5 separate regions of the Homo sapiens genome follow, and regions 2, 3, 4 and 5 are each linked to region 1. Evidence: fine-mapped QTL for protein levels in blood plasma. A gene starts in region 1. Each other region holds a variant in brackets. All regions are shown on one strand. Distances are between the middles of the regions.

Region 1 (5,111 bases):
TCCTCATGGTGAAATGCGACTAATGATGACTCTCCTGCTTATTTTAGAACACAGAGGGAAATTGTATCTGAAAGTGATTTGGAAAATCTAAAATGTTCTGCAGCAGCAGATACCTTTGACATATTCATTTGTATTGTGGGAACATATGTACAGGTTTTTCTCTTTGAGATAATAAGCAATAACCTGAAAATGCTCTGTTTTACTTGAAAATGTGTGAGATGCCTGATCCAGAGAGAAATTATCTTAATACTGTTCCAGAGTTGTGTTTGCATGTACACACAAAGCTGCTAATTAGATCACAGTAAATGCACAAAGTAACATTGTCTGCTTGAAGAATAAAGAATGTGTTCCATGAGAGCTTGCCTATTTTATTCACCATCACATTTATAATAGTAATATTTGTTGAAGGAATGAATGAGTGAAGCAATGAAAGAACGCAGATAGCAGAGATGTCTTTAGTTTTCTTTTCATTACCAATTTCAATTCTTGTGTTGTCTTCAATATTTAGGTATTTTCTTTGATACTTTTTCTTCTCCTCTGATTACCTCTAGAGGAGAGTATGTTGAAGCTCATTTTGACTCAAAATAATTTATGCTTAGGAATCAAAAGATGTTCGTGTTGCAAACACACATTCCTTAGAAATATTACTATTGTAATTGCTTCCTGAGATCATCTTTAATGTGTCCAATACATTATTCTGCTTTAGTTCTGTAGCACCTAACACAGGGTATGGCATTGAAAAAGTACTCAGTAATTCATGAATGATTTGGCCAATCCAATGGAATAACTGGTGTGAGTACCTGGGACAGAGGTGCATGACTAATAGGAGTATTGTGTAAGAAATGACACAGGGGTTCTGAAATTTTGCCACGGCATATTTAGTCATTTCCATTCAGTGTTAAGATGGTTGTCACCACACAAATAATATCTATTTGTTCACTGTAAATTTTCTCCAGGGTCCCTTCCCACCTTCAAATGCATTATTTTATTTTATTTTATTATTTTATTTTATTTTATTTTATTTTATTTTATTTTATTTTATTTTATTTTATTTTATTTTATTTTATTTTTTGAGGCGGAGTCTCGCTCTGTCGCCCAGGCTGGAGTGCGGTGGCGCAATCTCCGCTCACTGCAAACTCCGCCTCCTGGGTTCACGCCATTCTCCTGCCTCAGCTTTCTGAGTAGCTGGGACTGCAGGCGCCCAACACCATGCCCGGCTAATTTTTTGTATTTTTTGTATTTTTTTTTTTTTTTTTTTTTTTGAGTAGAGACGAGGTTTCACCGTGTTAGCCAGGATGGTCTCGATCTCCTGACCTTGTGATCCGCCTGCCTCGCCTGCCAAAGTGCTGGGATTACAGGCATGAGCCACCTCGCCCGGCCCCCACCTTCAAATGCATTAATCGGATTCCTTCAGTATTATGAAGAAAACATTATGAAGAGCCTTACCTGATGATAGTAATAACAACCGTAACCACTAAGTAGAGTCTATATTTATTAATAGCAATGTCATCTTCTCTAACAGTTGTCCAGTGTCCCAAGCCTGTCATAAGCTCTTTGAAGCTCTGTGAGAATGAGAGTTGTGTCTTATGCTCAGCACTTAAGATGGCTACTTAATTCAGATAGAAGAAGAATGTGGCTATTTGCAGGCAGAAGGCAACTTGATTCCTCACATGGTACTATATACTAAGACACCCTACACTCCCAGTTTTACACGTGGTAGTTCTAGCACGTTCCTTCATTTAAGGAGTCTCTTGAATTCCAAAATTTCCAGATTCCACCTGAATAAATGGCAGAGATGGCAACTGGACACAAAGTTATTTTACCCTGTTCCCTTCACATAAAAGGCAGGCTTGGGATCACTTAGGTTTGGGGGCATAAACATCCTCTCAGTGTCTGAGTACTAAAGAAATGATAAACTACTATCAATAGAAAAGTAACAGATCACTTAATTATCAATCAGTCTAATGGTGATTATTTTAAGACTTTTGCCACAAACTGAACTGCCCCAAAGCAAATCTCTCATGCAGTTTGGCCTTAATTTCTTTTACCCTTTTTTTTTTTTTGAGAGGTTATTATGCAGTGCTTTCCCGTTTAAAACACTGTTTCTACCAGGGAATATTAGGGGGTCTTCTGCATTACAGACTAAGCAATTCCGTCTTTTCTCAAGAAAAACTGCCATGTTACATCTGGACAAAAATGGAAACTTTAAAAAAAAACCTCACATCGTTTTATTTTCCTTTCTGTGTGTGTATTTTTTCCCACATAAGTATCTTATTATTTCCTAATCGAAGCTCATTCTTCTCTATGAGGCGCTGGCTTGGTATTTTCGCCTGACAAATCTCCCGGAGCAGATGGTCCCTTCAGGGAAGCTTCAGGAAAGTGCTGGGTGTCTAGTTATGCCTGGACCCTCCCTCCCTCTTGGGGCCCCAAATGACAAGTCATCAAACCAGTTTCTCTCCAGCAAGGGTCCTTGATCCGGTAGCAGCAGGTTTGGGTTTCAGGCACTGCAGAGACCCTTTGCAGTTGGGTTTAGCAGCTACCCAAGTCTGCAGCCTGCGCTGGTCCTGGGGGTGAGAGTGATATCCCTGTTGTCCAATCAGAGAAGCGGGTTTCCCTGTGGTCCCCGCCCCACTTTCCCTGCTGCCCCAATAACCGCCCTAAAAGGCCGGGCTTCTGCTGTCAAGTAGCCAGGGTGGGCTCCGCCGAGGCGAGGAGGGGCGCCGGTGGGGAGATGCGCTCCCAGGTGTTTGCAGCGGAAGTGGGAAACCTGTAGGGTATGGTCCAGCTGTGCCGCACCGAGGCGAGCAGGAGCAGGGAACAGGTAGGAAGCTGGACTTTTCCTTCTTTGCAGATAAAATAAAGAATGCGCATTTCCATGCTGTTGCTTCCCTTCCCCCAGCCCCGCCCAGCCCTCGTCACCCCCAAATCTCCTGTGGTCCCTGCAGCTCTCGCCGTGCGGCGCGGGAAGGACTGGGGCGGAGGTGGCTGGGGTGCGGGGAAGCAGGGGTGCGGGATGCCGGAGCCCTGGGGTGCCGGGCAAGGCAGGACGGCAGTGCCCTAGAAGAGGGCTCCGAGCTCGGGGTCTGTGTCTCGTCAACTTTCCTTTCGGAGGCTGCCGCCGCCAGCGCCGGGAACTCGCCCCAGGGATGCCATATCGCCTCGGCAGGGGAGGGGTGGGGAAGCAGAGAGGTCGGCAGCCCGGGGCCTGCAGGTCTTTTTCTCCCGACGCCGGCCCGCACCTGCTCATCTTTCCCATCCCACCTGGGCGCCTGGCTAGCGCATCCCGGAAAACCTGGGAGCGGTTGCGGAGAGGGGAGGAAGCGACTTGTTTGTCCCCTGACCCCTCTGTTAAGATCTAGCTCCCTTCAGGAGATGGGGGTGGGGAAGAATCCCTGCAACTCGAAGGGCACGTTCCGATTAATTACGTCTCCGTTGAGAAGGCACCGGCCCTTCTCCACGATCTGCGGCAGGTGGGAGGGAGAGACCGCGGAGCCACGGCCCCTTCCCTCCTAGCCTGGCGCTGTCTACGGGAACCACCTTCACACCTAGTTTCTGAAAGGTGGATTTGGCTTCAGGGATTTCCAGGGAGTCAAGTGATTGTGCCCGGATGGGCTCCGAGCGGCTGCGAGGCTGCCTCCCTAGGTGACCGCATCTGGGTAGTAGGTGTTGGCCCAGTGCCGGTTCCTGCAGGAGTCAGATTGCTGGGAGCAGTAGGCAGAAGAATTGCAGAGAGATCCGACGCTGCATCACCCTCTGGGACTGATGACACCCTGCTTTGAAAATTCCTGAAAAATTGGGATGATGGGAAAGAGGGAAAGCGGATAGCTGCGACCTTTCCTTATTTATTTATTTATTTTCATGCCAAACCGGGCATGGGTATTCGTACGTGTGCTTGTGTGTGCACATCTCCAAGGTGGAGCTATATATAGCTCCTGCATACCCAGCCCGGCTTCCCTGCTGCTGAGCCGGCTGCCTTGGCCTTCTCAAGCAATCTGGAAGCACTGAGTGGGCGGGGCAAAAGGGAATCCAATTCTCCATTGGGGGAAAAGCCGGAGAAGAAGCATTCAGACTGCTGAAACCCTGCGTGAAATAATGTTTTTGTAACTCACGTAAAGATCAATATTTCATATTTCATGTTTTCAATATGTCATATTTCATGTTTTCAATATTTCAGTATTTTGCAAACATTCTTAGAGTGCCAATATAATCTTCATCCATTTCGCCGCATTTTTCGGTTTCTAAGTGTACATATGAACCTTACCAGCCCGAAGTGTAACGCAAATCAAATTAATACATGCCGTATCTGGGATATTTTATTAGACTCGGCATAATGGTTTGGTTATTTGGTAGTAAATTTATTTCAGTGGTAACTTATGGCTAACAGCATTTGGGGATCTGGGAATGGATCCACCCACTTTCCAGGACTAAGGAACTGCTAGAACCCTTGCGGGGGTAGATGTGAGGTATTTCTTTGTACAGATTTTACATGTGGACCTGATATTTAAATTTGTACTGCTTTTTCATATCACATCTATTTGTACTATGTGAACTTTCTTTTATAGATTGATGTATGTGCATTTATCTTTGCCATTCCCTGAAATTACTTATTCCTGATGACAACCTTTCCATTTTCACAGATGAAGAAACTAAGATTCAGAAGACACAAGTGATTGGTTGAAAGTCTTCTGAAAACTTTAATATTCCAACAACCTGCCGTGTAATTATACTGCATAGCAGTTTCCCCTCAAATAGAATACTTTTTAGCTTCCCAGGATTTTTGGTCCTGGCAACAAAATGTGGTTAATGTTGATACCAGGAACAATATAAACCAAGTTTATTCGGTTCTAGTCTGACATGTATCCCTACAAAATTTAATTCTGTGTTTTAAGAACAAAATTCTAACTTGCCAAGTCATTTTGAAGATAAATTATTTAATCTACCAAGTTACCATCATAGGCAGTGCGAGCTGGCTTTTAATTTTGCTCTGCAACTTCCTGATGATCTGATTTGGAGCAAGATAATTAAACTCTGAGAATCTGTTTTCTTGTCTTCAAAAGGAATTTTATAGCATTGAAATTTCAGGTTGCTATGAGGGCCATAAAAAGCATGCA
Region 2 (5,111 bases), 91 kb after region 1:
TGAAGTTTAAGACCCCTAGGAATTCAAAATATTCGAGAAGAAAATTCTGACAATGATCAATAATTTATTTAGTTAACAACACTGTGGGCAGCTACAATATGGTTTCAGCTACAATATGGCAGCTACAGTATTTCAATTGATTCCCATGCTACCTATCAAAATAAAATAAAATTTGAAAGTCTTTCTTATATTTGCATGTCTGATATTTTCATAGAGAGTGCCATTGTGTGAGAATAAAATGTCAAATTCTCTATTCTCGGGAGGCTGACATGGAGGGATCACTTGAGGACAGGAGTTTGAGGCCAGCCTGGGCAACACAGTGAGATTCCATCTAAGAAAAAAAAAAAAAAAAACACCAATCCTCATTTCAAGGTTCATCTCAAAAATCCATGAATCAAAAGAGGAGGCCTTTAAGGAGAGGTTAAGGCATTCTATTCAAGCCTCTTTTTTTTTTTCAGAGGTTCAGGGTTTGTTGAGTAGGAAGGTATGATGTGGCTCCTGGAATGATGCTCATACCAAAGGGTAGAATTTTCATTTTTAAAGAATTTTGTGCAAAAATGATGGAAATCTTTTTTTTTTTTAATTTCTAAGGGTGATATGACTCATTAATGCATCAGGCTTTCTTTTACACTAGACAGCAATCACATACTCACTACTAAGGTTACCTCTGTTAGCAAGAGGTATCTCATCTATAAGCAGCTAATAATGGGAACCAAATAGATGAAATAAATCAGATGTGAAACAAATATAAGACCCTCGAAATGTAAGTGACCAGCAAAGAGAATAGTGCATCTTGGGACATAAGCTATGACTATATTAGACCTTCAAAGCCATATTTGCACAGATAGGTAAAGTGCTAGGAACAGGTGAATGCACAACCGTACCTGTGGGACAAAAGGCCTCAGATGAGATAAAGAGTGAAGTCAGAAGAAGAGAGATTTTATATAAGCCACCAGAAGACACAATAGCACTGCACTCTCACACTTGGGTCTCTGTCTCTTTGGACATCTGTCTTGACCATTCCAATAGAAAATTTAAATCTTGGTTCAGGCTGGGCCATTGATCCTGGTCCCAGTCCTCTATTGAGTATGTGTCAGAGATTCCTGGGTGAACTTTCCTCTCTTTTCCTAAGGGTTCCATGGGAGACAAATATTTCTTCTGCATGTATTAGGAACAAACTTAAATGTGGTACAAATTTTGTTATTTTATTATCTTGTATGGGCTAATGGGAGGGTTAGTCATTGTTAAATTTCTGCCTCCCATTAAATTTCATCATTAATCAATTTTTTTAAACCAATATCTGGGTTGAAATGAGTCACCAAGGTGAAGAACTGGAACATAAAAACCCAAAAGCAACATGATCAAGTGAATATAGCAGAATAAAAGGCCCTAAATTTAATTGTTTCTGTGTGTACACTGTGTCTTCTCAATTGTTCTCTATTATAGTCAGAATGGATCCTTATTGATTTATTTAACGCATGTTTATATTTTGGTTTCTGCATCTGATCTCATATTTTCTCAGGAGAATATAATGCTTTTCCTTTAGAATACAATGTTAATTATCAAGGTAACTGAGATTTGGAAATTTAATGGGCTCTTTCTGTTCTCTTCCTACTATTAATTTTTTATTAGTCATCTTGAGAGAATAAATATTTTTAGAATACCATCTGAATATAATTTTGTCTTGTCACATGAGAAATTGTTAATTTTTGAAGTTTAATTTTGTTACATAATAGTAATTTGAGTGAAACCATCCCCTATTACCTATCTATCAATATGCACACATATTTTTTAAAAGTTCCAATAATAGTGTTGTACATCATAAAGTGGGACAAATTCAGCAGTGATATTAAAGTATTATAGTTTTATTTGAAGTATTAATTTCTAATAGAAGTTGATAATGCTGAGTAAGATGGTGTTTTGGATATGAACCATTAACAGGCTTTGAAAAAATAAAAAAAAGGTCAAACCCTTTTAGCTTAAATGTATTTACTGATTTTATAAATGTAATTTATGAATATGCCAAAACCTTATATAATAGTCAAAACAACAACTTAAAACTTCTTAGGGATTAAAATGCAACTGATCTTCTATAGAACAAATTGAAAATTTTTGCTAAAAGTAAGAACATTTTAATCTTCTAGTTAACTAACTATAATTTCATAATTA[C/T]TGATTTGTAGATATCCACTTTGGATCATTTCTAGTGTAGTTACTAGATGAGGTCTGTCTAACACTGAAATTTGCTGGAGGGACAATTGGAATGATGCATATTTGAGGAAAATTTAGGAAAATTGGGTTACCCAAGTAGATGGAGGTGTATGGACTTATTTTGTTGATAAGAGAAAGTGATTTTTCCAGCTTCATAACTGATCCCCTGATTCCAGTATTCTCTACCTGAAAAATAATGGGCTGCATTTTATAATATCATAGTTGAGTGAAAGAATCCACAATCTATATGGGGTAGCCAAATAAAAAAAATTTAAAATGACGAATTGTCTAGTTTTTCCAAGGTATAAAATGATGACTTAATCCTAACAGAAGCAATAGAGGAAGGGTGTGCATGCTGTTGCCAGAGACATAAAGGAAATAAATATGACAGTATTTATGATAGATTAGATGAAAGGAATAAAGAAAAGAGGAGAGAAATTGGTTTTGGGGTTTCTTCTATAGCATAAGGGAAATTTTCAAATGAATGTAAGTAAGAGTATAAACTGTTTTGTTAGAGAACAATATGAGTTTGGTCTCTATTTTGCTTTTAAAGTACCAGTGGGAGCTCAGCTTCATTTATTCTATAGGACATAGAAAGTCGAGTGAAGAATAGAGTCAAAGATTGAGTCCTAGCTCCATTAAATATATTTATTAAAGATTTTAGAGTGGGTGATTTCTCTGAAAGAATTAGTATAACAATAGAAGAACATAAAGCTGGCATTTTAAACATAATTATCAGATGAACAGTTTTGAATAAAATATAGCTGTGTGAGATCAAAAAATATATGTGAGAAGATGCAAGCTGAAAGCCAGTCTTGCCTCCTATAACTGACTCAAAAATCTCAAAAGATTTTGTGAGTTTTGAATTTGTTTTTTGTTAGTTTGCTTGACCTTAAAATGTTGACTTCTACAAAGTGAATAAAGTAGATTAAAGGCTGATCATCAGACTCCCTTGATAATGCAAATTACATAGAACACAACTCTAGTAAACATCAATTTCAATATGTTATTGACAATGTGACTTCTCTTACCTTAAGCATTTTCTTTCATATGGTATTATCACCATTCCAGTAACAATGTTTCAGGTAAAACATGATTTAAAACAACTTGTATTTTAGAATCACAACACTCCTTTACTCGTTGTGTGAAACACGTAAATCAGGTAATAAAAAACCAAATAGATGAATAAAGAAGGGAAACTCTTCTTATGCTAGAAATTCATTTTGAGAGATGTCATTCATTAATGCTGAGGTAAATATTATAAAAATGAAAGACACTTTTTCTTAACATTAGTAAATAAAATATAGATGGAAATTATATGTGTAACATAGTTACAAATTTCTTACCAATTAATTTCTTTATACTGACCATCTTCACTTGTAGATTAAATTTGTCAATTTTATGCTAAATTTTCAGCTAACAGTAAAGAAAAATAGATATTCTCTTCAAGATTCCCACAGTGTAGTTAAAAATGTCAGCTATGTAAACAAATTATTACAGCATAGTGTAATCCCCTGTTACAGAAGCCCAAAGGGTGCTATTACTCATTTTGACTGGGTGGTTCAGGACTAGGGAAAATATGAATCTTTATCAAACTTCTAAAAGAAAATATAATTTCTGAATTTAGACCTGCATTTGTCTGGAGATGAGTCTTCATATGGCGCTATCAATATATTTTTAGAAAGTGGGGATTTAAAATGTGAAACTTGCACCTGTGGTCTGCTACTTACTTTTCTCACACAGCAGTTCCCCCAATAGTAGTACTTTAGTTAAATGCATTAAGAAATTGAGTGGAAAAGCTTTGGTAATTGTTTTATTTAAGGTAATGGAACTTATATACAGGCAATGCAATGAGTCACTTCAGTTTTTCAAGATAAATTGAGATAGTTTTAAAGATTATATCGAGGGTTCTCTTTCTGGCAGGTTATAAATGAAAAACTCTAAAATGTGACTGTAAGAAACTTGTTTTTAAATGTTTTGCTGAGCGGGCTAGAAAAGAAAGTATTCCAAGAGGATAAAGATGAAGTGAAAGCAGGGACCCTGAGAGGCAAGCAAGTGCCAAGCTTGGAATGTAAGATAAAGCCTGGTTTGCCCAAGTTGGAGACTGATAGAAAAGCTCCCCAGAGAGCAGGATCCCAAAGGGCAATACTGTAAGAACAGGTTCAACAGGGTCGTGTTCTATATGGGAAATAAACCTATCACTGGGAATATACATCAAAGAAATGTACTTACCCACACCTTCCCACTGATTGGATTGGCACAAATCTGCCCTTAGAATTCAGAAATATAAGGTAGCTTTCACTCAGGTTTGGGGGCAGAATTCACCTGCGTGGTCCAACAAACCTCAACTGATACTTTTGTGTGGTTACAGATTCATAGTCATGGGGTGGATGCAAAAGGAATCCTTCGTAGTGTGAACCTAAATTCAAGGCATTTCCTAGATACAGTTCTAAGGAAATGAGTAAATCATCTGAAAATTATAAAATGTAAAAAATAAAATAGACTTAAAGCTAACAAAAGCATGACAGGAGATCTAGACTTACAAAGATTTCAGATATTGGAAGTATCAGACACAGAAAAAAACTATTTAGTATTATATTAATTTTCTTTTGCTGTCTGTATTGTTCCATTTTTGCATCACTATGAAGAAACACCTACAGATGGGGTAATTTATAAAGAAAAGAGGTTTAATTGGCCCATGGTTCTGTAGGCTGTACAGGAAGCATGGTGCCAGCATCTCCTCAGTTTCTGGTGAGGCCTCAGGGAGCTTTCACTCATAGTGGAAGACGAAGTGGGAGCAGGCACGTCACGTGGCAAGGAAGGGGGTGAGAGAGAAGGGGGAGGTACTGTCTCACCTGTCTGTGTGAAGAGACCACCAAACAGGCTTTGTGTGAGCAACAAGG
Region 3 (5,111 bases), 85 kb after region 1:
GTCACGATTGTGATGTCTAAAGAGAATTTCAAAGACTGGATTCATCTCTGAATGTTTAAGGGAAGACATCGATCTATCAGTAGTTCAATTATTCATGAGAGGGAAATTTGCAATCTCACAAGACAGCACATATTTAAAGAATGATTATAGAAAATATATGTGATCTGATGAGAGTCTCCTCCAAGGAGAGAAAAACTAATGGTGATTGTCAACTTTCATGAATATTTTAACAAATAAATAAACTCAATGTGATAAAGTCTGCTTTATAACGTATTCTACTGCTTCCTCTCCAGTGTAATTTCATGAATAACTACAGAAATCACACACTTAACTCTCATCTCAATATATAATTTAGCTATTATTGAATCTTCTTGCACTAAGAGAACATTTAAATTATGCTTTTAGTCTTCTACTTTTGGCCTTTTTTTTTTATTACCTTTCTCTAGTTTTTTAAAATCAAAGTTTACTAAAATATTTAAAAGAGAAATTAGAGCAACTAAGTCTTTTTAAATTTTTTATTAGTATGGTTAAATAATAGTTGTACATATTTATAAGGTACATGTGATACTTTGATATAAGTATACAATATGTAATGATTAAATAAGGATAATAGAGTTATCCATCATCTCAAGTATTTATCATTTCTTTGTATTTGGAGCATTCCAATTCAACTGGCTTAATTTAAAATGTACAATAAATTATTGTTAATTTTGGTCACTCTTTTTTGCTACTGAACACCCGCTCTTATTCCTTCTATCTTACTATATTTTTGTACCCATTAACCATCCCCTCTTTATTGTTCTTTCTAATGTTTAATAGGAAAGTGGTTATTTATCTTGATCTACTATATGGAGGAGAGATTTTAAAAATAACTTTAGATGCTGTATTTGGAAGGAAACTAACATATTTAAATGAAGACCACAATTAAATGTTTTTAAATATAATGCATGTTTCTTTAATATAAATGAATTATATATAATGTAATGTATATTTCCTTTGGTAGATATTAATTTGGAAAAATTTTTAGGTATGAGATATAATTACCTAGAGGCCTAGAAACTTGGGTAAGTAGTTTATCTTTAGTTCTATAATTATTTTTTTCCATTATATTTTGGGTACTAAATAAATGTCTCTTTGATTACAGATCTAAGCCTGATATCCTAGTAGGGAATAACATATGTATATTAGGACTAGGCCACGGTTTATCTTTTTTTCTGTTTACTTTTTACTTCATTTGAGAAATCGTTTCTCCTAATCACAAGTAAAATATGAACATACTTTAAGTCTGGAAATCAGCAATTCAAAAACTAAAGTGTACAAATACATAAATCCATGAGTTTAAAGAAAGACAGTAGAAAGACAGAGTTACATAATAAATTTTGTTATGTGTAGGCACCAGCAAGTTTTTTCTTATAAATTAAGACCTAAGTTAGACACAAATAACTAAGACAATGGTGACTTGAAATGCTAGAAACATTGCGGGGTAACATTGCCAAAAACAAGTAAGCAAACAAGAAAAAGCCCCAGAGATCAATGTGAGTCAAAAACGTAGTGTAAGTAGTATGTTGTCACTGCATAGTTACTTCATGAGTCAATTACAGATATAGATAGATTTTTAATAGTATAAAACAAAAGTTTTTTGAATTATACAGTGTAGCTTATTAATTATCCATTGTAAAAGTTACAATAGCAACTATTTAGGGCATTTGCCTCATTCCACATGTTGTATGGTAATGTTATTGCAGCCCAAAGCACTGATATTTCTCTATTATTCCTTTGTTTTAAATTTCTATTCTTTTTTATTTAAAATGGGCCACAAATTATAGTTTCTGTGTTATACTAGCCAGTGTACAGTTGGGACTCATTACTGAGTATAGAATTCTACAACACTGTAAGACAGATAAGATCAAGAGTTCTCAACAAGAGTTGGACACATAAGATAAAAGTAAAGCCTTTATAACAAACCAAAATTCACTGAATTGCACACTTAAAATAGATCAGTTTTGGGGTGTGCAAATTATATATCAATAAAGTTACTTTTTTTTCTTTTGTTTTGTTTTAAGATAGAACCAGGAGAGGATTTCACTTCCAGCCATTATTGATTTGTGACTCGTAATTCTTAGGTCTTCTGTGAAATACTGTGGGGTCAATTACTCATGCCTCATTTTTATATTTTGAATTGCTCCTTTTTTCCAGATACATTCCCAACTTTAAAAATGCCCATTGAGCTTACATTCTTAAAAACAAACAGGAAACAAACAAAAATCTTTCTCTATCCCTACTTCCTTCTTTTCTGACTTCTAAGTTTTAGACTTAAGAAAGGAATAGTCTCTGTATTATTTCAACATCTTTAACACCTCCCTTTACTATTGGGTTGAGAGTGACTTTGCAGAATTCACCAGTTACTCTTGAATTGCCAGCTATAATGATTTCTGTACAATTCTCATTTTTCTAGAACTCTATCAAGTAGGCGACACACTTAAGAAACTCTTTTCATTAAAGCAGTTTTTGTTTTTGGCTTCAGTGACCTATTTTTAACATGTTATATATTTTCTCTGGCCACACTTTTATACTGTTATTTTGTTTTTTGTTTATCTTGTATATCCCACCTCTCCCAGTCTTAAATTCTTCCCACTTATGTCCCCTGATTCTCTTGGCATTAACTGTCACACCTCTATAAAAATGGCATCCCAAACCCTAACTCTAGCCTTGACCTCTCTCTTTACTTTGGGTACATATATTCAACTTCCTTTTTGATCAATATAACATTTCTCACTAAACCTTAAAGCGAAAATCATCTGTCTTTCTCCAGACTCTATCTCCAATATCAAGTAATAGCATATCCATACATCTAGTCAACCATGCTAGGATAGTCAGGGTATCTAATTACTAT[G/GT]TTTTTTTTTTTTAATTCTCTATATCCAATCAGTTACCAAGTCTTATCAATTCTATCTTGAAATTTCTTTTATATATGAAACCTTTCTGTGTGTATATAATAATAAGCTCTTCCTAGGACTTAAAGGAAGGGAAAGGCTAATGTTACATATGCTGTCTGGGAACACAGCATTTCCTGAATACCTTACTCTTTGGTAACACCTAGGCGACCCTCCTGGCACAGAGTTTAGCCTAATGTAAAAGAACAAGTCTTCAGGGTCAGCACAGGATGAGTACTATCACATATGGCATATTGCAGTGAATTAGAAAAAGATTCCTTCTGTAATATACATCCTTCTTTTTAAAAAAGTCACAATGTAAATTTTTTAAGAAAAATATATTTTACTGCCATCTATGGGAAAAAGTCTGGAATGAATATACAAATCTGCATTGTCTATGCTCTGATATGTCGTGTTCTAAGGGGTGCATAAACTGCATGAGCACACATGGTAGCTCTGCGTAATGCTGTGCTTTTCAAACCCCGGTCCAACTGTTTAGTAGCTTAACCTTGGTAATATACTCAACAACTTTGAGCTTCAGATTCATCACCTATGGCATGATTAATAACAGTCTCTTTCAGTCAGTCTTTGGGAAGGGTAAATATGGAAATATGTATAAGTAATAAGCAACTTCAAATTTACCTGTAGATGTTTCCAGTCTACTGCCTCAAAAGCACATCATGACAAGATACCAGATTATGGAAGTCCTTACGCTAATGTAAAGGGGCAATGAAAACACTGTTGGTTTTAACATTTCACTACAAATCATTAAACATGTCTTCAGGAATATTTATTTGAGGTCATTTCAAAAGAACCAGAGGAACAGTCATCCTATTTTTTTAATAACTCAGGATGTAGCCTGGAATCTAATTGTACCTGAATGTTGGACAAAACTATGTGAAGGCTTATTACCAAACTATAAAAAAGTATCTTGGCTTCACCATTTCCATGTTATCATCATATTTTATTGTTCTCCTATTTCAGAGGTCAGCAAAGCACAGGCCATGGACTATATCCAACCCCTGTACTGTTTTTGTAAATAAAGTTTTATTGGAACATAGCCACATGCATTCATTTATATACAGTCTAGGCTGCTTTCCTGATACAAGGGCAGAATTGGGTAGTTGTCACAGAGACCATATGGTCTGGAAAGAACAAAGTATTTATCTGGCCTTTATGCAAAATATTTATGAACCCCTGATTTTTTATCCATTTTAAAATACCAATTCACTTGACTTTCCATTTTGCTCAATTCTACAAATAGACAAAAAATATTATATTAATCTGGAGCATATTGAGTCTCATTTTGCCTTTCAAAGTATCTTTTATGAATGAACATAAACCTAATTATAGCATGCTGGCTTAAACACGAACAATCCCTTAGGTTTTATCTTAAAAAACAAAACAAAACTAACCAAAAAAAACCTAAGACAAAGCAACTTGTTCATTTTTGCCAGATTTTTATTGGAACTACATAGAAAATATTTCCTATAAGAAATTGGCTCTCAACGACTGATTGTTTTGTCATTAAAATATAATAGTGGGGAAAAGTCCATTTAGTAGTTTTAGAAGAGCCATGTTATTTGATGATACAGTGACTGAGTTAGTTGCCTGTTTGAAACTATTTTTGGTTGATAGTCAGGAAATTCCATGAGTGCCTACTTCATTCATTAAATCAAGTAGTTGAAACCTTTCCTTTTCATATGGAAAAATGACTAAAAATTAGGCAGCATATTGTTATGGAAAAATATGAACAGTCAGGTAGATGTAGTCTTACTCAAATACTAGCTGTATAATTTTGGGATAGACTTTAGTTTCCACATTTCTGAAAGCAAAATAAATAATCTTTATTTTTTTAAGGATTTTTGATAATTATGTTAAAATCTTAGTAAATAACAGTTTCTTAATTAATAGTATGGTAAAGATTGAGTTCATTAAGTAAAATATGTCAAATTTACTCAGAATATTCTTCAAAAAGTCTATTTCTCAAATTTCCCCGTCTGTTTGTGTGAATTTATTTAGCAATTTGTTTTGTGTGCTACTTCTCATTCTTAAAAACAAGTTAAGAACTTAACCTTACTCACCTTTTTCCACTTACCTTTTAAAATAATTCTACCAAGGACACTTATAATTTAAAAGCTAGTTGTCTGGTATCATTTGGATGTGTAGATACAGCTAAAG
Region 4 (5,111 bases), 58 kb before region 1:
AAATGAAAAAAGAAATCACATGTATAGGATGTGAGGAGCCTCACTCCCCAGACAGCCTAGTGCCTGCTTAAGGGGCTTGGGAACAAAATGCCCATGGTGGCCAGGGTGGCACATGTTTACAGGCTTCCCCTCACCAAGGCTAATCTGGCTAACAGTATTGTTAAATGTTTCACTTGCCAAAACAGAGACTAATGCTGCACTATGCCAGCATATCCCACAGGTGCCAGAAAACATCTGGGGGCAAGATGGCTACTTTGACCCACATCTGTCAGATTCATTTTTTCTCCCTGAAACAGACACACATTCTGAATTTGAATTTGCCTTTTTTGTCTGTTCTCTGCTAGCATCAACATCTATGAACTTAGTGAACGCTTCATTCACAATACCAGGGTTCCACACAATGTTATTTCTAACCATGGGGCTTGTTTTCTATGGCAGGATAAATGGAACAATGTGCTGAAACCTGAGGAATTTTCCAACTGTGCTATGTCTCCCCTTACAGAACTCTCCTTATAGAATAATGAAAATGAAACAGCATATTGAAGACTCAGTTACAGCACTTTCTGGAAGATAGCACCTTGTGAGGTTAACAGGGTGTTTTAGAAAATGCATTCTATGATCTTAAGCAGTGAGTCATTTCCTAGCTCATCAAATTTAAGTTGGCCTGGATTGTAAAGAGTGCAATTATTTTATGTAAAACTAAGAAAGAAAAATATACTATCAAGTAAACTATAACTTTCAATGATTGTAAGAAGCAGGCTGATGTCAGAGACACAAAAACCTTAGAAAAAGACAAAAGAGATGTGATGTAAAACAAAAGAAATATTGTAAATTTTACACTTTTTTTCTGTAGCCATAATTCAAAAGTCAAGGAACCAAGGAGTGGAAGTGAAAGTGATGTTTTAACCTACCATACCAATGTCACCTTCACAAAATCCATGCCATTGTGGACTCTTCTGTCATTGTTTTATTATTATTATTATTATTATTATTATTATTTAAACCTATTCTGACAATTTAATTATGTGGACTTGTCAAAATGTTATTTCAAGATTGTTCAAAAAAAGGGACCTAAGCAGACCAATTTAAAGATTTATCTCTTGCTAGTGACATTTATAGAAGACAGAAATGTTAGTTAATTAAGAAAAGATTTTCTGATTAGAGATGATTAGGCTTCTGACAGTCAGCTGACAGTTAGAGGGTGGGTGGGTGACTAGCTTTCCAGAACAGATCTCAGGCTTATTACAGTTCATGAGGCAATGATACAATGGTGCTTAGGCTATTTCATTAGGTATGCCAAATTTTCTTGGAAGGAGGTTGTGAAATACATTCCAGACCAGGTTTGGGGCAATATTTTCCTTAAGTTTCCAAAGGGAAAAATGCTTCCATCAAGGACATAACAACAGTTGCATTTTAGGCTCTTCTTGAAACAAGCAAAACAAAACGAAATAAAATATCAACTAGTATGGGAGTAAAATAACTGTTCCAGTGATTAATCGAATTACCAAAGAAAAATCGGGCTACTATTTCACAATGGAGACAAAAAAATACATCTGGAGCCAAGTCATCTAAATTGTCTCCAAATAGTGGCCAGTCTAGGGATAAAAAATAATGGAAAATTATATTGGCCAAATGCTCATTCAGGCAAGACCAGCAAGGAGCCAGACATCTCAGAATAAAGATTTGGATCAACGTGCAGACAAAACAAACAAACCATCAAGCAAAACAAACAAAACTAATCAGCTAAGGCGTTGGGCAAAGAATGTGATGTAGGTCATAGCTATACATAGTTCTATCTGTTTATGTGATGTATATATCTCTACCTACTAGTTAACTTTTTTCTTCTCTTCCCTTCCTTTTCTTTTTTTATATAGGATTTGTGTGTGTGTGTGTATGTGTGTGTGTGTGTGTGTGTGTGTGTGTAAGACAGGGTCTTGCTCTATCATCCTGGCTGGAGTGCAGTGGTACAACTATAGCTCATAGCATCCTCAAACTCCTGGGCTCAAGTGATCCTCCTGCCTTAGACTCCTGAGTAGCTGGAACTGGGATTACAGGCACACACCACCACACCCAGCTAATTTTTAATTTTTTTTTGTAGAGATGGAGTCTCACTTTACTGCTTAGGCTTGTCTCAT[A/G]GAATGTATCATCGATGTTAAATTTCTAATTTAATTTATAGCTTTATACATAAGAGAACAATCTAAGCTGCTGTAGAAGAGAGTCTAAAATCCAGTAGCTTAAGGTAAAGGTTTATTTCTCTTTCATATAATAGTTGGGCTTATAGTCTAGGGCTTGATGGTGGCTTGAGCCACTATCAGAGATCCAAATTCTTCTACTGCTTGCTCTCCCATTCCTAGAATGCTTTCCCTGCCTGAAATGTCAAAGATAGTTGAACCTCACATGCATATTTCAGTGTGTAGGAAAGAGGAAAGGAAAAAGGACAATAATGTTGAAGGTGGCATTTCAGCTGAACTAAAAGAAGATGAGTATCACAAAAAGATCATTAGAGTGACTGATGAGACTTTGGTTCTCTCCTTTTGGAGAGATGGCAAATGCATTATATCTGTATGGTAATGGTTATTTTAGATTGCCATTGTTGGAAGTTTAAGTATATGGAGAAATGTATGGATAAACGTTGCATACCCAGAAAATTGAACTTGGTGGATATAATGAAACGACCCTCATATTCACTCCAACTTTCTCCTCATGTGACTTTCTATACAGCAAAGATTGCAAAAATTAAAACTACATGTTTTAGATTCCTTTGAAGATGAGATTGAAGATGAGAATTATGTACTGTATGTTACATAGAACTGCCTGAGGCATGGAGAGCAGACGTCTCCCTGTGCTTTGGGTGTTATTTTTGGCAGGCACCATTGTATACTTGTTGGTTTCACTGAAACAGCATTCCAACCACTGACTTCTAGACTGGAAGTTCATATATGTTTTCTGTAAAGGGCTATAGAGCATATATACCAGTTTCATGGAACAAGAGGCCACATACAAGCTCTGTCCCAATTCCTCAACTCTGCCGTGCAGTGAAAGCAGCAACAGGCAGTACGTAAACAGAGGAGTGTGGTCATGTTTGCTGCCTGGATTTGGTCTGGGGAACATTGATTTCCAGCATCTTTTCTGGAGCATAGTCTTGGAAAGGCAGATTCAAGCAGCATTGGTGGCCCTACTCAGCAATGCATTCTCTAGTCATTGAGAGTGACTACAGAATGGGTGTCAGGAGGGAGTTGTGGAGATGCTGGCTTATTTTCTGGATCACAGTCAGAAAGGCTTCTGTGTTTCCCTCTCTTCCTAACTGTGGTAAGTTCCCTGGTGAGCCAGTTCTATTGTATTGATCTTGGAATCATTCCTGGAGGAAGCTTAGGATAAAGTCTGCCTTTCCACTCCTTTAATGATTTTTGTAAGCACTTTGTTTCCTACATTTAAACCAATGTCGACATAAAATATGTCTATGGTGGATTCTGTTTCTTGTAAATAAAAACTGTCTGATCCTAGCTTACCTCTACATATCATTAAGAGTCCATAACTCTCAGCAGGCAACATGCCAGGAAAGAGAGGCAAAGGCTAAGTGGATGTGAGGATATCTGGTTGCCTAAGGAAATGCTTTTTTCCCTTCCATAGAAAGCCAGAATAACACCATGCACAGTGCATTTTGGTCTGAAATCTTGGCAAAGAAGGCTTAAGCTCTGACTTGAATTCAACAAAATCACACTGGATTATGATTAGAAATCACACATTGAGTACATCAAGCTTTCCTTCCATTTGGATAGAAAAGCTACCAGCACCCACATGGATAGTAAATGGTACAAGAGATATTCTAGCTTGTCTTTTGGCAAATGCTAGGCTTGATTTTGTGGCTCTCCATTCCAAATTACTAGAGAAAATAGTCTATAAATATGTTTAAAATGCTGATTAATGAGGGAATATTTACAGTTCTGAAGATTCCTTTCTATTAGAAACAGATAAAACAGAAATTATTAGAAGATGTCTGACTGTCTTCTAATAATCATCTGACTGAAGAAGATAGGAAACAATCATAGAAAGCCAGGAGTAAGAAGTGAAGATTAGGATGCAAAGACAGATGACAGAAGTAGAAATAGGTATGGCTAGACTTACCAAACCCAATCACAGAGCAAAATCAGTGTTGAAGAAGAAGTGAAGGTAATAAACTTGCAGAAGATCAAATGAAGATTTGATACATGACCATGAGGTCTAGGAAGGTAAGTATCAAATCTTTAGGGCAGGCTGCCAGCCTGGATGTCTTCTTCCAACATATGGCTTCACTTGTCACTCTCTTAATAGTGCCTTTTAATAACAGAATTTCTTAATTTAACAAGTATAATTTATTAATCGTTCCTTTTTTGGTTGGTGCTTTTTGTTCTGTTTAGAAATCTTTGCATACCTCATTTCACAAAAGTATTTACCCATGTTACCTTCTAAAGCATTGTATGTATATTTCACAATTAGGTCCATGAATTAATTATTGTATTAGATGTAAAATGGGGATCAAAATTTGTTTTTTCATATGGATATCTACTGATACAGCACCAATTACTTAAAAAAAATCATTTACCTACTCTCAGTGGCACTTTTGTCACATATTAGATTGGTTGGATATGTATGTGTCTACTCCCGGATTTTCTATTCCATTTAATTGGTCTATTTACTTCCTGGTACAACACTATATTGTTGTAATTATTGTAGCTTTATAGTAAATTGTGATATCTGGAATTGTAAGTCCTCCACCTACATTTTTCAAGATTTAAAAAAAATTTCTTTAGTATTTCCGTATACATTTTAGAATTAGCTTTTCAATTTCCATATAGACACCTACAGAAACCTGCTGAGAATTTAATTGCAATAGCAATACATTTATAAATTTATTTAGAAAGAACTGACATTATAATTACTATGAAGAGGTTCATAGCTCCTTATAGGACTTCTATAGGCAGCTATGGGTGAACAGAGCTTTTCAAAGGTTTCTAGGATGTCCTCCAGAACTCACCTTAGGAATAAAGTTTGCATGATGTCACACAATGTGACTCTCTTCTAAGTTTGTCTTGTCATTTCCATATTCTAAAGTAAGACAAAGACCCTTGAAG
Region 5 (5,111 bases), 45 kb after region 1:
CTTCATTCAGCCCACATTTTCTCATTAGGAAAATAGAAAAAATGATTTTACTTAGCTTATACATTTAAGGATTAATGCAAATAATGACTTAATCTGTTACCCGGAATTTCGTAGATGACAAATAACTATCACATATTCTATTATCATTACAATTTATCACTAAGGGAAAAGTCAAGTATGCAAATTAATATAACATAATAAGCATGCTAAGAAAAATACAGATGAAATTGCCCATTGTATTTACAAATGGAGAACCAACATCTGGGTCAGGAAACCTTGAAGGAAGAGAAATTGATTTTGGAGGTGTTTTCTCACAAGAAGTATAATTTATCAACTAAGTTGAGAAGATTTATTTCAGTAAAGTTAGAGCAAAGTCATTCATCAGGAAAAGCATGATGTGCAACAGAGGAACAGTAAAACAATCATTTTACTAGGCATACGATTTTATGATAGTGTAAAAGAAGATTATACTGCAAAGAAGGGTTGGATAACTATTGTGGGTTGACTATTTAAATCATCATTGTTGAATGTTTCAAAGGATATTTTGTTCATTCCTTAAAGACCAGAATATTTCAATACCAAAGAGTTCCACAGAACCAAAACAGGCTTTCTCTCCCCATAAACTCTCAGTAGACATATATTCAATAATTAAAGCTATGTATACTTTCTTAGATTAAAATGACTAGCTTTTATGGAAGTCAATTTAGTACTCTTATTTAGAAGTGACAAGAAACTTCAAACAATGTAAGAAGATTCCTCAAAATACACATTTGGTACACACAAAGAAAGAAACGTAACTAGAATATTTTAAATATTATTAAAAGCCTATATTTGTTTGGCTAAGGCAATGGGCGTCGTTCCCACGGAAAAATCACCTATAGAGTTTATCAAATTAAACATCTCTTGGGCTGAGTCTTAAAAATTCTGATTTCATTTGTTTAGAGTGAAGCTCAAAGCATCAGTAATTTTCAAAGATATAAGGGAATCCTAACTGTGAGAAAGGAGACCAAAGATACTTCCTCTTTCTCTCCTCTGAAATCATGTAAACAAGAATAACAAGAAAAATGTAAACCATGTTTTTGACAAAAATAGGGATATCTATAATCTTGAATCACAATTTAAGATGAAGAGCTGTCAAATGCAATAAATATCAAATCAGCGTGCAGGAAGATACTGACAGAGGGCATATGCAGTTACATATCTCAGACACAGCCAGCCAAATGCAAACATTTTCCAGAACATTGGGGGATGCTAAAGAGGAAAATCTACAGTCCTCGGTTTGAGTCAATAGAAACAACATGTTTGAGCTGGCTGTAGAAACTCTCCTGTCCACCATTTGTTACTAAAGAGAGGTGGGGGAGGTAGGTCTCATTGAGGAAATCACATTGCTTGCCATCTTTGCTGGAAGAGACATGTGGAATAAGCAGAGGAGAAAACATCTATTGTGATTACCCTGCAGCTGTCTCAGAAAGATGGGGCAAGACATGCTGGCCTCATACAAACATCCAATCCCCAGGGTAAGCTGAAGGAAAAGGCAGCACTCTGTGAGCCAGGGCCAGTTTCTCTTAAATAGACCACTATTCGGACACACACAGACACACATACAGAATCAATCAATCAAACATGAGCACTTGGAAGTGTAAAAGGTATATAAATTATAATGAAGATCTGGCAGTCATTAATACATAGGCACAAGTAAAATGGACAGAAATATAGTAATACAATATTCTAATTTATATAGGATATTCTAATTTATCTCTCAGACCACGGCAAACAAATAGACCAAAAGTAATGCATAGATCTTAATAATATAAGTATAAGATATGGTTTAAGAAGCTCTTGCAATATTCACATGAGAAAAAAAATAATAGATTAGAAAGAAATCGCTAACATATTTCCCAAAGGAAAAGAATTAGCTTCACTGATCACAGTGAAATAAGTGGCTCTCACAAGTGGCTTTTGGGTTAAAGATGAAGTTCAGAGCAAAAGAGCAGATTACTTGGAAAGTAAATATAATAAAGCATTATATATGAAGACCTATGGTATACAATTTAGTCACAGTAACTAGAGACAAGTTCCTAGCCACAACCACTTGCATTGATAAAGAATGAAAATAAATAATTTCGGTAACTAACTCACACATAATAAAATAAGTTAAACAAATGAAAATATTTAATAATTTAAAGCAGAAAGTAATGTCTTAGAGAACAGACAAAACAGAGCTAATAAATCAACCCAATAACTGGGTCTTAAACAAACAAACAAAGGAAAAACAATGGCTAACCTAATCAGGACGCTGATGGTGAAAGCACAAATACATTAAGAATTGGAAATGGGAAAATATCTCAAAGGCAGAAGACATTAAAAGAATTGCATAAGGTTAGTTTTTTCAACATTATAAAAATAAATTTTAAATCCTACACGAAATCAGTATTTTTCTAGGAAAATAGAAATGAGTGAAACTGATCCTTGAGAACACAGACCAATTGCTAAAGAAAAAAATTCAAAAACTTTATCATGGAGATATTCCCCCTTCCAAATCAGTATAAATCCAGATTGATTGGTGGATTTTATATATAAATTTTTTATCTTCAAATAGTTTGAAGCACTACAAGAAACAGATGCTTGTAGCACTTCAAGCTATTTGAAAAGATAGGAAAATAAATATTTA[C/T]ACTTGTATTAGTCAGGGTTCTCTAGAGGGACAGAACTAATAGGATATATATGTGTGTGTGTGTGTGTGTGTATATACACATATACATGGGAGTGTGTGTGTGTGTGTGTATATATGTGTGTGTGTATATATATATATATATATATATGAGTTTATTAAGTATTAATTTACATGATAGCAAGGTCCCACAGTAGGCTGTCTGCAAGCTGAGGAGCAAGGAGAGCCAGTCTGAGTCCCAAAACTGAAGAACCTGGAGTCCGATGTTCAAGGACAGGAAGCATTCAGCATGGGAGAAAGACGTAGGCTGGGAGGCTAGGCCAGTCTCTCCTTTCACTTTTTTCTGCCTGCTTTATATTCGCCGGCAGCTGAGTAGATTGCACCCACCAGATTAAGGGTGGGTTTGCCTTCCCCAGTCCACTGACTCAAATGTTAATCTACTTTGGCAGCAACCTCACAGACACACCCAGGATTAATACTTTGTATCTTTCAATCCAATCAAGTTGACACTCAGTATTAACCATCACACAATTATATTTTCTAATCTAGCATTACATTACTACCAAAATCTGACAAATTAAAAAGATATATAGACAATAGAACTTGAAACAAAGATCAAAATAAAAGACTAGCAACTAGAATGAAACATCACAAATAAAGAGTAATATACCACCACTAAGTGTGGCTTACTCTAGGAACTCTAATATGGTTCTGTATTGAGGCATCATATTAAGAGATCATAAGAGAAAAATCAAATATTTAAATACATAGAGACTGAAATTATTTGCATAATTCAGCATATATTCTGTATTTTTAGAAACTTTTAATAAGATAGTAATAGGCTTGTGTATTCTTAATAAATAATCTATAAATCCCAAAGTGATTTTGAAGAACAAGTGAAGGGGAACTGCTGTATCACATACCAAATTTAGCATAATTTCATAATAATATGATATTTGTTCAGAGTGTACAATGTTGAACAAAACATAGAGCTCGGAAACTTATATTGATGTCATTATATGGATACACCAACTAGTGCGGGAAAAGAAAACTATTCCACAAATGGCACTGGGAAAATTGCTGTTTTATTTTGGGAGATGGGGCAGAAATTTTTACTTCATACTAATAAAATCAAGTCCATTAGAATTTTGAAGGGTAAAAAAAATTTAATCTTTAGAAAAACAATTTATGAAAATATGTGGGTGACTTTTGTGTTGTGAAGCATTTCTTAAACAAATTACAGAAAGCAAAAGGGAAAGATTAAAAATGTAAAGCTTCATTTTGACAAAGGACATCATTAAATACAGTTTGAAGTCAAGCCATAAACTAGCGAAAGTAATATACAAGACCTACAATTGAAAAGGAACCACAAACAAGATATAAAAATTTTATAACTCAGTAACTGAGAGATAAATGACCCGTTAATAAAGGGTCAAATATTGTGAACAGGCATATCAGAGAAGAGAAAATCTCAATAGTCAATAAATACATGAAATGAGGCTCCATGGCACTAACAGTCAAAGAAATGCAAAATAAAACTACAGAGATTTAATGTTTTGTGTCTACCAAATTTGCAAAAATTAAAAAGCATAGCAGTGGAGAGTTGTACCTGTAGTCGATGGGATTTTGAACTAGTAAAAGCACTCTGGAGCTCAATCTGGCAATATTTAGTACCATAGAAGATTCATAGGTTCACAGAAGATTCATAGATTCAACCTAGCAACTTCACTTCTAAAAATATATGCTGGAGAAGAACAGTGGTTCTTAACCTTGGGTGCACATGACAGTCATACCAGTACCCAGGCTGCACTACAAACCAGTTAAATCAGAAATACCAGAGACATTTTTCTGGCATCAGTATGTTATAAAGCTCCTCAGGGGATTCTAGTGTGCAGTGGAGCTTAAGAACCCATGTAGGAGACTCTCTCACAAATACCTAAGAAAAATGAGAAGAAATCTATGAGCATATTAATTTTAATCTTGTTTGTAGTAATGAAAAACTGCATTTCAAATGAGTAAAAAACTTGGATAGTCAATAAGGATAAATCTCAAAATCTCAGCATTTAGTTTAAAAAGCTAGTTGCAGAATGAAACATATTGTACCATTTATATAAGATTTGAAGGCATGCAAAACAATCCTCTAAAATGTTCTTGATCACATAATGTGCAGCGTTTTGAAATGTGTAAGAATGATTAAAAAACAATTTCAGGATATTTCTAGACCTCAGGCATAAGGATGTCAGATTTAGCAAATAAAAATACATTCAAATTGTATATCATATGAGACATACTTATACTAAATATTTATTCATTGTTTATCTGAAATTCAAACTTAACAGGGAGTCTTGCATTTTATATGGCAATCCCACTTGGGAGGGGATCTGGAAAGGTAAACAGAGGCTTCAGCCATATCTGTAATGTTTTATTTCTTTAAGAAATAATT

Alleles and levels. Alleles are on the strand shown, and positions count from the first base shown. The strength of an association depends on the size of the effect and on how common the allele is.
For the plasma level of the protein whose gene starts at base 2,668 in region 1, allele T in region 2 goes with a higher level than allele C (moderate association).
With allele GT in place of G in region 3, the plasma level of the protein whose gene starts at base 2,668 in region 1 is higher (moderate association).
In carriers of allele G in region 4, the plasma level of the protein whose gene starts at base 2,668 in region 1 tends to be higher than with A alone (weak association).
For the plasma level of the protein whose gene starts at base 2,668 in region 1, allele C in region 5 goes with a higher level than allele T (strong association).

What was found. PIP is the posterior inclusion probability: the model's chance that the variant is causal. The UK Biobank Pharma Proteomics Project read protein levels with antibody pairs (Olink). The fine-mapping took linkage between variants from a reference panel, not from the people measured, so its PIPs are less certain.
Region 2: its variant is fine-mapped to the plasma level of the CNTN1 protein (UK Biobank, PIP above 0.99).
Region 3: its variant is fine-mapped to the plasma level of the CNTN1 protein (UK Biobank, PIP above 0.99).
Region 4: its variant is fine-mapped to the plasma level of the CNTN1 protein (UK Biobank, PIP above 0.99).
Region 5: its variant is fine-mapped to the plasma level of the CNTN1 protein (UK Biobank, PIP 0.95).

What each region holds. Positions count from the first base shown.
Region 1 is chr12:40,689,772-40,694,882 of GRCh38, forward strand. CNTN1 (contactin 1) reads left to right here and starts at 2,668. Exons shown (of 24, transcript NM_001843.4): 1 at 2,668-2,821.
Region 2 is chr12:40,780,351-40,785,461 of GRCh38, forward strand. The region is part of intron 1 of CNTN1 (contactin 1); the gene reads left to right. Among named protein-coding and RNA genes, the nearest start is that of CNTN1, 90 kb to the left of the region's middle. The variant C/T (reference allele first, on the strand shown) is at 2,170.
Region 3 is chr12:40,774,346-40,779,456 of GRCh38, forward strand. The region is part of intron 1 of CNTN1 (contactin 1); the gene reads left to right. Among named protein-coding and RNA genes, the nearest start is that of CNTN1, 84 kb to the left of the region's middle. The variant G/GT (reference allele first, on the strand shown) is at 2,894.
Region 4 is chr12:40,631,792-40,636,902 of GRCh38, forward strand. No RefSeq gene overlaps it. Among named protein-coding and RNA genes, the nearest start is that of CNTN1, 58 kb to the right of the region's middle. The variant A/G (reference allele first, on the strand shown) is at 2,136.
Region 5 is chr12:40,734,564-40,739,674 of GRCh38, forward strand. All of the region lies in intron 1 of CNTN1 (contactin 1), which reads left to right. Among named protein-coding and RNA genes, the nearest start is that of CNTN1, 45 kb to the left of the region's middle. The variant C/T (reference allele first, on the strand shown) is at 2,672.